Homo sapiens: one gene and its partners. The protein of the gene in region 3 purifies or fractionates together with the protein of the main gene of each other region. This does not show direct contact. Each region holds a gene or a part of one and is shown on either strand. Other genes may lie near its edges.

Region 1 (3,655 bases), on a different chromosome or scaffold from region 3:
AGCCACTGCGACTGGCCAGTACTCTTGACCACTATTTTTAATACATGACAAACCCTCTTGCTTCAGATTTTAGGAAATGATTATAAGCTCCAAGAATCATTATTTAGAGAATACTTTATTAGTTTCTGTAATCAAACCCATGTAGATAAGACCTTACATATTTAATACAGTGCGTTACCCCTGTACAAATGGAAAAAAATTAAGTTTAACGTTTCTAGACCAATATGGCTGTTAATTTCTGTACAATGCCAACTCAACACAGTAAACCGGGATACTTTTTCCAAAGTTGACAGCACAGCTAAAGTTTCCAAAAATTCAAATTATATATATATATGTATATATATATATATATTTATATAAAAAGACCAATAGCAGTATGTTATGCATCAATAGCAGCAACAGCTTTTCCAGGTTCTGCAGTCATCTGAATAAAATTATAGAGACATCCAGCACACTCCATTTAAAAAAAAGGGGGGAAAAAGGTAAAAAACAAAACCCCAGAAAATTGCAAAGTTCTGTTACTGTTGTGGTACCTGGCACCGTTTTTTAAAATTAGCTTCTGAATCATCATCTGGAAAGAAAACATTCTAGAATAACATCATTAAAAACAGCTCTGATAAAGCACGGTCACTACTACGTATCATAAAGCAGGTACAAGATATTTTACATTCACAGAGGTATGATACAGTACTGTCCTATATCTATAATACTAGAGGATACAATTAAAAAGGCATTATTTGAGACTTGATTCTACTTTTCCAGCAGAGGGCCCAAAGGATGGCATGACACAGCTCTGTAAAGAAATGCACCTTCTTAGGATTTCCTTTAATTAGTGGCACAGTTCTAGGTACTCACTGTTCTTCATAAACACCAGCTAAAAACTGGTATAAAAAAAAAAAGAAAAAAACCCCCAAATCATGGGATTCATACAAAGATGACTGAGTGGGGGCAAGGAAGACTCAACCTAACCAGCATTTTACCAAATCTGTCATGTTTGAATCGTGAGAGCTCCATGGAAGAAAGGAGATGCTAAGTAGCGCTTCAAAGCTTCAGACCACAACCAAAACACAGCACCATTTCAAATAGAAGCAGTAGCCAAACACTGCTCACTTTGATATGGTTCAAGGATGCTGACATCAATATTTATCTGCTCATTCATCCAGGAAGAAGGGGACATCAGTTACTACTGTACTTTGATTGTGTTCAACTCAATCACCATGTTATAAAAATAGCAAGCTGCCATAATAAAAAATAAGGCTCCTCTATCCAGCACCAGTTATCTTCAGTTCTTTACCTCCAAGCCTACAAATGCCATAACCATATCCGAAGAACATAAGGGAGCAAAAAAACCGCATCTGATGTAGTAGCTGGGACCATCACACTGTTCAGGCTGAGCTATTCCTCTGCTGTGTTATTTTCCTTATATTTTTGGTGTTTCATCTAATCATAAGGATTTTTAGGTCTAAATTATATGCACTCAAAAAAATGGGTGCATACATTTATATATAAATTCTGACTGAAGATGCATGGCCATCAACCAAGCACATGTTATATAGTAGGTACAAGCTTGCAAAGCCTCGTTTTCACTGGTACAGCAGCTGTGTGTCAGTGTAAATTGCTCCTATGTCCCTTGTACATCTCCAAGCTCTGAACAGGATAATGTCACAGGCCATTTTGCCCCTTTGGCTGCCAGCATTATCTGACTTAATTCTCCATGTTTTCCCGCCCCCCTCCCAATCCCCTGCAATAAACCATAGCCTTTAAGATTTTGTTTCTTCGGTTTTGATCGCCTGAGGTTTGATTGGTCCAGTTCTAACAGGTTTGGTGGCTATGGAGGGTGCAGGGGGTGGCTTTTCTTCTACTTTTTCCTGACAGACCCCAGGAGGGTCGGTCAGTGTTTCAGGAGGTTTACTTGAATCACTGTCCACTTTCTGGGCTTTGCCTCCTCCTATCTGTTTGCTCTGTTGCTGTTCAGAGAAGAACCGTTGCGTGGACTGAAGAACCTCTGCTCTCTGCTTTGCCTTAAAAAATGAGAAAGAACAACTGAAAATACTGCAGCATTACCAAAGCCTGTCAAATCAATCTTGGTTCAAATTCTTTTACCAATCACAAATCAGTTTTCCCCACACTGGTTTGGCCAAAGCCAAAAGTACCTCATTGATCTTTGAGCTTTTAATGAATAGATTTCTTCCTATTTTTGAAATATTTCATGTGATTTAAAAAAAAAAAAAAAACCACAGGACCACCTCCCACCACCTTTTCAAGGTCTGCCCTCTCATATTAAATTTTATTTAGGGAACCTGCTTGCAAATCTAAAAACATACATGTAACACTTAAAACTTCTAGTTATCAATATGTGGTCTACAATAAAATGAAAAGGAAGCACTTATATTGTGGCATTACCAACACCTAGGACCAAATGTCTTGTGGCTGAGTCCTCTTCCCACAGCTCTCTTCTGCAGGGGAAGAGCATCAGAAATTAGTAACTACGACTTCACTTGATCACTAAGTTCTGATAGCTCCTACCACATTCTGAGCTGGTAAATAATTTCTTAGTTTTGACTATGTGCCCCCAAAAATATACTTACGTCAAATCTGTAAATTTTACCACTGTAACATTCACAATTAAAACTTAAGTTTCCATCCTTCTTGCATATTAAAAAAATGCTTTATGTTCTATAGGTAACCTGTACTATCCAAAGATCTGAAGCAATTTTCAAGAAGTTTGTACCCTCTCCCACCCCATTACTACTATTAAGCTCTAATGTTATTTCCAACATGGGAATATGCGAAAATCAAGAGCCAAGGAGCCAGGAGTAGAACTGGAATCCAAGGCCAAATAACTTCCTAAGATTTTTACTCACACTGGTATTTCTAATTATAACAAACAGATGGAAATCCTAGGCATACAGCCTTAATAAAAGTAGATAATTATTTAATAAAAGTTTTGCTGCTGGGTAGTCTTTAAATTTGATTACTCAGGATCAGAAACACTAGGGATGTCGACCCAAAAAGACACTTTAATCAATCAATCAAATTTTCTAATAGGATTATCATAAACATGTTTCTAATTCAGAGTAAAGCATTACTATGCACATTTCCCTGTTTGAAAGCAGTAAGCTTTTCTTTGTTCTAGTCTGATCTGATGACATATGTAGTGACAAAACAGGCAAAAATTACTAAGATCCCTGAAAGTCAAGCCTAAAGTAAATATAGAAATAAACGGATTCAACTGGCTGTACTGGCAGACATGTAAGGTTTATGCTACAAAACTGTCCCCACACAGACTCCTAAAGGCACTCTTTCTGCATTAGCAAACCTCATGTTTATCAGTGCCTTTCATCATGAAGGATCCCAAAGTGCTTTTCTGAGTTCTTCATCTATAACTGCACAATCCACTGTGGAATACAACCACCTCATGTGGTAGGCCAATAAGGGTATGAAAACAGTTTGAGAAGAAAACTGTACTTTGATGACTCATAATGGAAAAAAGTACTAAGATAGTAACACATCTTACCCATTCCAGAGTTTTCATATAACCATGATTTACATTTTAAGCTGCTGGGAGGAGGAGAGTCAGGGGAAAGGGGGGAAGAAAATATATATTAAAAAAAAAAAAAAAAAGAAAGAAAATGGGGAAGTCTATAATAATTGA
Region 2 (3,655 bases), on a different chromosome or scaffold from region 3:
GGTTTCATCATGTTGGCCAGGCTGGTCAGGCTGGTCTTGAACTCTTGACCTCAGTATGATCCGCCTGCCTTGGCCTCCCAAAGTGCTGGGATTATAGGTGTGAGCCACCACATCCAGCCTCTTCCAGTTATTTTAAAATGTGTAATAAATTATTGTTGACTATAGTCACCCTGTTATGCTATCAAACACTAGATTTTGTTCATTCTAACTATATTTTTGTACCCATTAGCATCCCCTCTCCCCGTCTCTCCCACTACCCTTCCTAGCCTCTGGTAACCATCATTGCACTATCATCATGAGTTCAACTGTTTTAATTTTTAGCTCCCACAAATAAGTGAGAACATGTGAGGTTTGTCTTTCTGTGCCTGACTTATTTCACTTAACTTAATGACCTCCCGTTCCATCCATGTTGTTGCAAATGACAGGATCTCATCTTTTTTATGGCTGAATAGTACTCCATTGTGTGATGTACCACATTTTCTTTATCCATTTGTCTGCTGATAAACATTTAGGTTGCTTCCAAATCTTGGCTAGGGAGAATAAACATGAAACTGCAGGTATCTCTTTGATACACTGATTTTCTTTCTTTTGGGTATATACCTAGCAATGGGATTGCTGGATGATATGGTAGCTCTTTTTTTTAATTTTTGAGGACCCTTCAAACTGTTCTCCATAATAATTGTACTAATTTACCTTCCCAATAGTGTGTGACGGTTCCCTTTTCTCCACATCTTCGCCAGCGTGTTATTGCCTGTGTTTTGGATAAAAGCCATTTTAACCGGGGCGAGACAATATGTCATAGTTTTGATTTGCATTTCTCTGATGATAATGATGTTGAGCACCTTTTTATATACCTGTTTGCAATTTGTGTGTTTTCTTTTAAGAAATGTCTATTCAGATCTTTTGCCCATTTTTAATCAGAGTATTAGATTTTTCCCTAATGAATTGTTTAAGCTCCTTATATATTCTGGTTATTAATCCCTTGTCAGATGGGTAGTTTGCACATATTTTCTACCATTCTGTGGGTTGTCTCCTTACTTTGTTGATTGTTTCCATTGCTATACAGAAGCTTTTTCCATATTTACTTTAGTTGCCTGTGCCAAGAGAAAGGGAATTTAGAAGCCTCACATATCACCAGTCTTTTCCAAGACATTTATTCAGAAAATTTGACTGTCCCCTATTCAAAATGGCACATCTCTTTTTTTAAAAAGTGTGAGGTTGGGCGCGGTGGCTCATGCCTGTAATCCCAAATTTGGGAGGCCGAGGTGGGCGGATCACCTGATGTCAGGAGTTCCAGACGAGCCTGGCCAACGTGGTGAAACCCCATCTCTACTAAAAATACAAAAATTAGCCAGGTGTGGTGGTGGGCTCCTGTAATCCCAGCTACTCAGGAGGCTGAGGCAGGATAATTGCTTGAACCCGGGAGGTGGAGGTTGCAGTGAACCCAGATCGTGGCACTGCACTCCTAGCCTGGGCGACAGAGTGAGACTCCCTCTCAAAAAAAAAAAAAGAAGTAGTAGTATGAGCTCACTGCTGTTTTTCTCCCTTCTCAGGATCGAACCTGCAAGCACTTATAGACAGTACTCGGGAACCAAATAGCTCTGCACAAATTGATATTGTTATCTCCAACAAAGCCGCAGTAGCTGGGTTAGATAAAGCGGAAAGAGCTGGTATTCCCACTAGAGTAAGTTACTTGGGAAAATATCTTTGCTGTGGGCCATATTTAAGCTCGTAATCTGCCCTCACAGGACCCTGGTCTATGGGCACTTGTTCTTGGGACTTCGCCATTTTGGGTGGGTGCTGGGCTTGCCTTCTTCATCCTGTCCCTTTCTTAATAATCTCTCTATCAGGTATATCTTTACAAGGAAGTGAAGTATGGTCTGTGTAAAGGTTGAGTTTTTAATTATTTTTGGTAATTCATTGAAAAGGGTTGTGCTTATCTTTTTCTATTACAGGTAATTAATCATAAACTGTATAAAAATCGTGTAGAATTTGACAGTGCAATTGACCTAGTCCTTGAAGAGTTCTCCATAGACATAGTCTGTCTTGCAGGATTCATGAGAATTCTTTCTGGCCCCTTTGTCCAAAAGTGGAATGGTAAGCAAAAATTATTTGACATCACATTGGGAAATCAATTGAAAATGGTCTCCAGAACAGATAACTTGCCAAACAATCCCAGTAGTGAACACCCATCCCAGAAATCCAACTCCTGTTTGACTGTGATATTTTATTAATACTTTAACACAGGTCACAGTTTAATTTCCTTTGTTTTACACTAAAGAATGACCCAATGATGATTTATTAACCTGCTCTCTATCCATTTACTTTGGCTTGCTGTAATTAATCACTTTTTCTAATGTAGCTTAGTTTTGTTTCACATTACTGCAAAGATAATATTTCATCTTTTGAATAAATATTCAGAAGACCTTCCTTTATTTGTTTGGAAGCAAAAGAGAGTGATTCCGTATATCCCAAAATGAAGAGTCCATCCTCTCTTAGGAAGCATAGACCATTGCCAGGAGTTGGCAAGGAGGAGGTTATTGCCAGAAAACACATACTATCTATGTTACTGCCTTCTTCCCAAAAGCCTTGACTGCATCCTGTTTGTGTATGTGTGCACACAGTTGGTCAATAAATGCATTTTCCCTCCAAAGAGTTTATGTATTCTTAGGTGAATGTAGTTAGAGCACTTGTGGTGTGATATAAAATAGACAATGCCTTTGGTGACATGAGCCACACAGAACTAATCTAGCATCTGTCTGGTGGACAGGTCACTTTGTGGTTAGAAGTCAAGCACATAGATGCTATGTAAGAACCTCTTGCTTATTTTTAATAGTACGTGCCAGCAACAAGCTGGTATTCAGCTTGAACTCCCCACCTTCCTGTCACCATGAATGTCTGTTCAGAGCACCCCAGCATGCCTTTAACTGTGCAAGGCGGGTACTTGCTGCTTCCAGGGCCTTCTTGGATGAGAACTTACTTTTACCTCATTTCTGTGTTTGGCAAAGAAAACATCCATCCCAGAAATCCAACTCCTGTTTGACTTCGGATCTAGATAGGAAAACGTATTCCTTTAACAGAATACCCAGGATTTTTAAATTCTGACCACTATGCTTTTTTTAATTTTTAGGAAAAATGCTCAATATCCACCCATCCTTGCTCCCTTCTTTTAAGGGTTCAAATGCCCATGAGCAAGCCCTGGAAACCGGAGTCACAGTTACTGGGTGCACTGTACACTTTGTAGCTGTGAGTATGTCTTTTTCTACCAACATAATATTAGTAGTCAGATGTAAATGACACTGGCTAGAAGGTAATGTTCAAAACTTTTGCTTACTTTTCCAGGAAGATGTGGATGCTGGACAGATTATTTTGCAAGAAGCTGTTCCCGTGAAGAGGGGTGATACTGTCGCAACTCTTTCTGAAAGAGTAAAATTAGCAGAACATAAAATATTTCCTGCAGCCCTTCAGCTGGTGGCCAGTGGAACTGTACAGCTTGGAGAAAATGGCAAGATCTGTTGGGTTAAAGAGGAATGAAGCCTTTTAATTCAGAAATGGGGCCAGTTTAGAAAGAATTATTTGCTGTTTGCATGGTGGTTTTTTATCATGGACTTGGCCCAAAAGAAAAACTGCTAAAAGACAAAAAAGACCTCACCCT
Region 3 (3,655 bases):
GAACTATTTAGTCCCAAGTTTCTAGGAATCTGTGGTTTTTGTACCCATTAGATATGGAATGCATGCTACTAATTAACAAAATCCACATATCTAGCCTATTATGCCATAGGATGGAGTGGATTACATTGGCTAAACCATTTTTCTTCTCTTTCTTTTTTTTTTTTTTTTTTTTGAGACAGAGTCTCACTCTGTTGCTGAGGCTGGAGTGCAGTGGCACCGTGTCGGCTCACTGCAACCTCCATCTCCTGGGTTCAAGCAATTCTCCTGCCTCAGCCTCCCGAGTAGCTGCGATTACAGGCGCCCACCACCATGCCCAGCTAGTTTTATATTTTTAGTAGAGATGGGGTTTCACCATGTTGGCCAGGCTGGTCTTGAACTCCTGACCTCAGGTGATCCACTCGCCTCGGCCTCCCAAAGTGCTGGGATTACAGGTGTGAGCCACCGTGCCTTACGTGGCTAAACCATTTTTATGCTGCCCTTATCAGAACTGAATTTGTAACTGACTTGTGTGCTTATATTTCTGTCTGTATGTTAAATGCAAAACTCTTCAGCTCAGGTCACTCTTGGTAGGGATGAGGGGCCATCTTGTCCAAGAAGGGAGCTGTCTGGGTTGGCTAGCCATGTGATCTGATACCAGGGTAAATGGCATCAGTATGCTAACCGATTCTGATACACCCCTTCTCTAGTCAATCCTTTCCAATTGATCTTAAAACACTCTTTTGTCTCTTCCCTCTTCAGAATCCGACAAGGATTCTTCTGTTGACTCTAGAATTCAGTCTGAAATGTTCTGCTTGGCACTCACCCTACAAATCTTGCTCTAAAATCTAGCCAGTGTTATTTCCCCAAAAGTCTGTGTTCCCCACCCCAACCTTCCTTCCCACCACCACCCAGGTGCCTTTGCTCATGCTGTTCTCATGGTTTTCAGTGTCCTTCATCTTTTTCAGCTTTACACCTTCTTTAGGGTCTTTTTTTTTTTTTTTTTTTTTTAAGAGACGAGGTTTCGCCATGTTGGCCAGGCTGGTTTCGAACTCCTGGGCTCAAGCAATCCTTCTGCCTCGGCCTCCCAAAGTGCTGGGATTACAGGCGTGAGCCACCACGTCCAACCAAGGCCTAATTTTAACTCTGAACAGTTTTACCTGTTTTTTATTTCAATTTAACTTTTTTCTCTTCGTCTTTGTAATGGAAAAAATCCCTTCCTTTCGTCCTAACTTTTTTAATCCTTCAATTCCCTGAGATTAATCCTTGGTCTTGCCTTCCACCATTCTCCCTACGCTCAAAAGAAATCAGTGGAAATAGATTCTCTGCTTCTCTTCAATTCAAGCAACAGTTCACAAGCATTTCCCTTGGGATTTGAGCATGACATGAATGAAGGTGTCTGTCTTCTCCCTCAGCCAGGGAAGCCTACTTCCACAGCTCAGCACAACTTCCTCTCTCTCTAGCTCGCTCTCCAGCAGTGCCCTCCTTTCTAGTTCCTTCTGCTGCATAACACAGCCCCAGAGGTTCCAGGGTTCCAAGGAGTCCACTCTGTCATGAAGCTCATTGACTTAATGCACAGTACCCAGAAGCCTCAGTGAAGTTCAGCTGAGAGCCAGTAGAAAAAAGGAGAAACTCCAAAGCAGAAAGTAGTAAATCAGCAAAATAAAATAAAATAAGCCAGGTTGAAGAGAATGAACCCACAATTTACAGAAAATGAACACCATTTTCTAAAGGAGACTTAAGTAGGACTACAGTTAATACCCTTTCACATTTAATAATTAATTGAGATTCATTGTAGATAAAGTACATTTGAAAAAAAATTTTAACATAATTCTACTGAAAATATCTGAATATTTAACTTGAGGTGGCTTAAAAGGACAATTGAAGCTGTTTTCCTATTGAGAAGGAAAAAAGGAAAAGTGGAACCAGAGAAAGTGAAGATGGTGAATGTATATTTTTCTCTACAGATTTTCAAACAAAATCTGGGAGTTTCCCCCAACCTTTTACGTAACTTCTTTCTTAATGCAATTTAGTTAAATGTACTCAGTAGTTTGCTGTGTGATCTGGCGCCATCTAGTGTATATTACAGGTACTGCATCTCCAAGAGGGCCAACCTTTTTTTTTGCATTCAAAACAATTTTATAATAAGTACCATATGTTAGCTAAAAGAAAGTAGAACTGTATACCCAGACTATGACAGTGGGGAAATTTTCTATATTTTTAGTGTGGCCTTTGACAAAGTCTTCCGATTTTGTTTCAACAGGAAACAGATGATTTGAAGAGAGCTGAGAGTATGCTTCAACAAGCAGATAAATTAGGTTGCAGACAGTTTGTTACCCCTGCTGATGTTGTCAGTGGAAACCCCAAACTCAACTTAGCTTTCGTGGCTAACCTGTTTAATAAATACCCAGCACTAACTAAGCCAGAGAACCAGGATATTGACTGGACTCTATTAGAAGGTAACTAAAAACCTCAATTTCGAATGTGTGGGACTATAGAGTAGAAATACATAGGCCACAATGATTTTACAATCTAGACTTAATAAGTTTTTTTATATCTACAAGAAGTAGATGGCAGATGCTGAGTAAAAACTGGCAGGAAAGTACGATACAAGTGAACTTTTAAAGTAAAGTAGTCGAGGCCGGGCACGGTGGCTCACAGCTGTAATCCCAGCACTTTGGGAGGCCGACATGGGCGGATCACCTGAGGTCAGTAGTTTGAGACCAGCCTGACCAACATGGTGAAACCCCGTCTCTACGAAAAATTAAAAAATTAGCTGGGGCGTGGTGGCACATGCCTGTAATCCCAGCTACTCGGGAGGCTGAGGCAGGAGAATCACTTGAATCTGGGAGACGGAGGTTACAGTGAGCCGAGATCGCGCTATTGCACTCCAGCCTGGGCAACAGAGTAAGACTCCATCTCAAAAAATAAATAAAAAAAATAAAAAGTAGTCGAGTCGCTTAATGTAAAGCCACTTAGTAAATCAGTATTTAGTTTTAATATTTAGGGTTAGACCACTTTTTAATCCTCTCACCAGGAAAAAGTGCACATATGCATTCAGTTTGACCTGTAAATTTAGCATATATTTATGTTTCATTCATCCACAGTCAATGTAACTGGAACTAACCCCAACTCCTTTCACCTTTACCTCCTCAAGAAACAAATGATAATATATACTAATTTTTTTTTAAGTTTTGGAAAGGCAGAGTTTACCTTTTCCAGATTATATATGTGTGAAGCGTAGTCTATAAAAATTAAGAAATGCAGCCAGGCGCGGTGGCTCACGACTGTAATCCCAGCACTTTGGGAGGCCAAGGTGGCCAGATCACCTAAGGTCAGGAGTTCGAGACCAGCCTGGCTAACATGGTGAAACCCCGTTTCCACTAAAAATACAAAAAATTAGGCAGGCATTGTGGTGCGCACCTGTAATCCAGATACTCGGGAGGCTGAAGCAGGAGAATCCCTTGAACCTGGGAGGCAGAGGTTGTAGTGAGCTGAGATCGTGCCATTGCACTCCAGCTTAGGCAACAAGAGCAAACCTCCATCTCAAAAATAAATAAATAAATAAATAAATAAATAAATAATGCAAATAGTAATTCATTGAGTGTCCACTGATATTTCTATAAAACCAGTAACTTAACTGATAACATCAGTTACTTTGAGGGATGCAGATTCGAGG

What was found.
Region 1: the proteins of PLS3 (region 3) and PRRC2C fractionate together in Homo sapiens (co-fractionation; one large-scale study listed by BioGRID). This does not show direct contact.
Region 2: the proteins of PLS3 (region 3) and GART fractionate together in Homo sapiens (co-fractionation; one large-scale study listed by BioGRID). This does not show direct contact.

The regions. Positions count from the first base shown.
Region 1 is NC_000001.11:171,589,953-171,593,607, reverse strand, and holds the end of PRRC2C (protein PRRC2C), read right to left. Parts: intron 2,457-3,655; coding exon of another isoform or gene 2,404-2,456; intron 2,022-2,403; coding exon 1,761-2,021; 3' UTR 97-1,760; downstream 1-96. UniProt on the Homo sapiens protein: Required for efficient formation of stress granules.
Region 2 is NC_000021.9:33,504,003-33,507,657, reverse strand, and holds part of GART (trifunctional purine biosynthetic protein adenosine-3), read left to right. Parts: intron 1-1,553; coding exon 1,554-1,684; intron 1,685-1,955; coding exon 1,956-2,097; intron 2,098-3,130; coding exon 3,131-3,246; intron 3,247-3,342; coding exon 3,343-3,534; 3' UTR 3,535-3,655. UniProt on the Homo sapiens protein: Trifunctional enzyme that catalyzes three distinct reactions as part of the 'de novo' inosine monophosphate biosynthetic pathway.
Region 3 is NC_000023.11:115,641,074-115,644,728, forward strand, and holds part of PLS3 (plastin-3), read left to right. Parts: intron 1-2,239; coding exon 2,240-2,435; intron 2,436-3,655. UniProt on the Homo sapiens protein: Actin-bundling protein.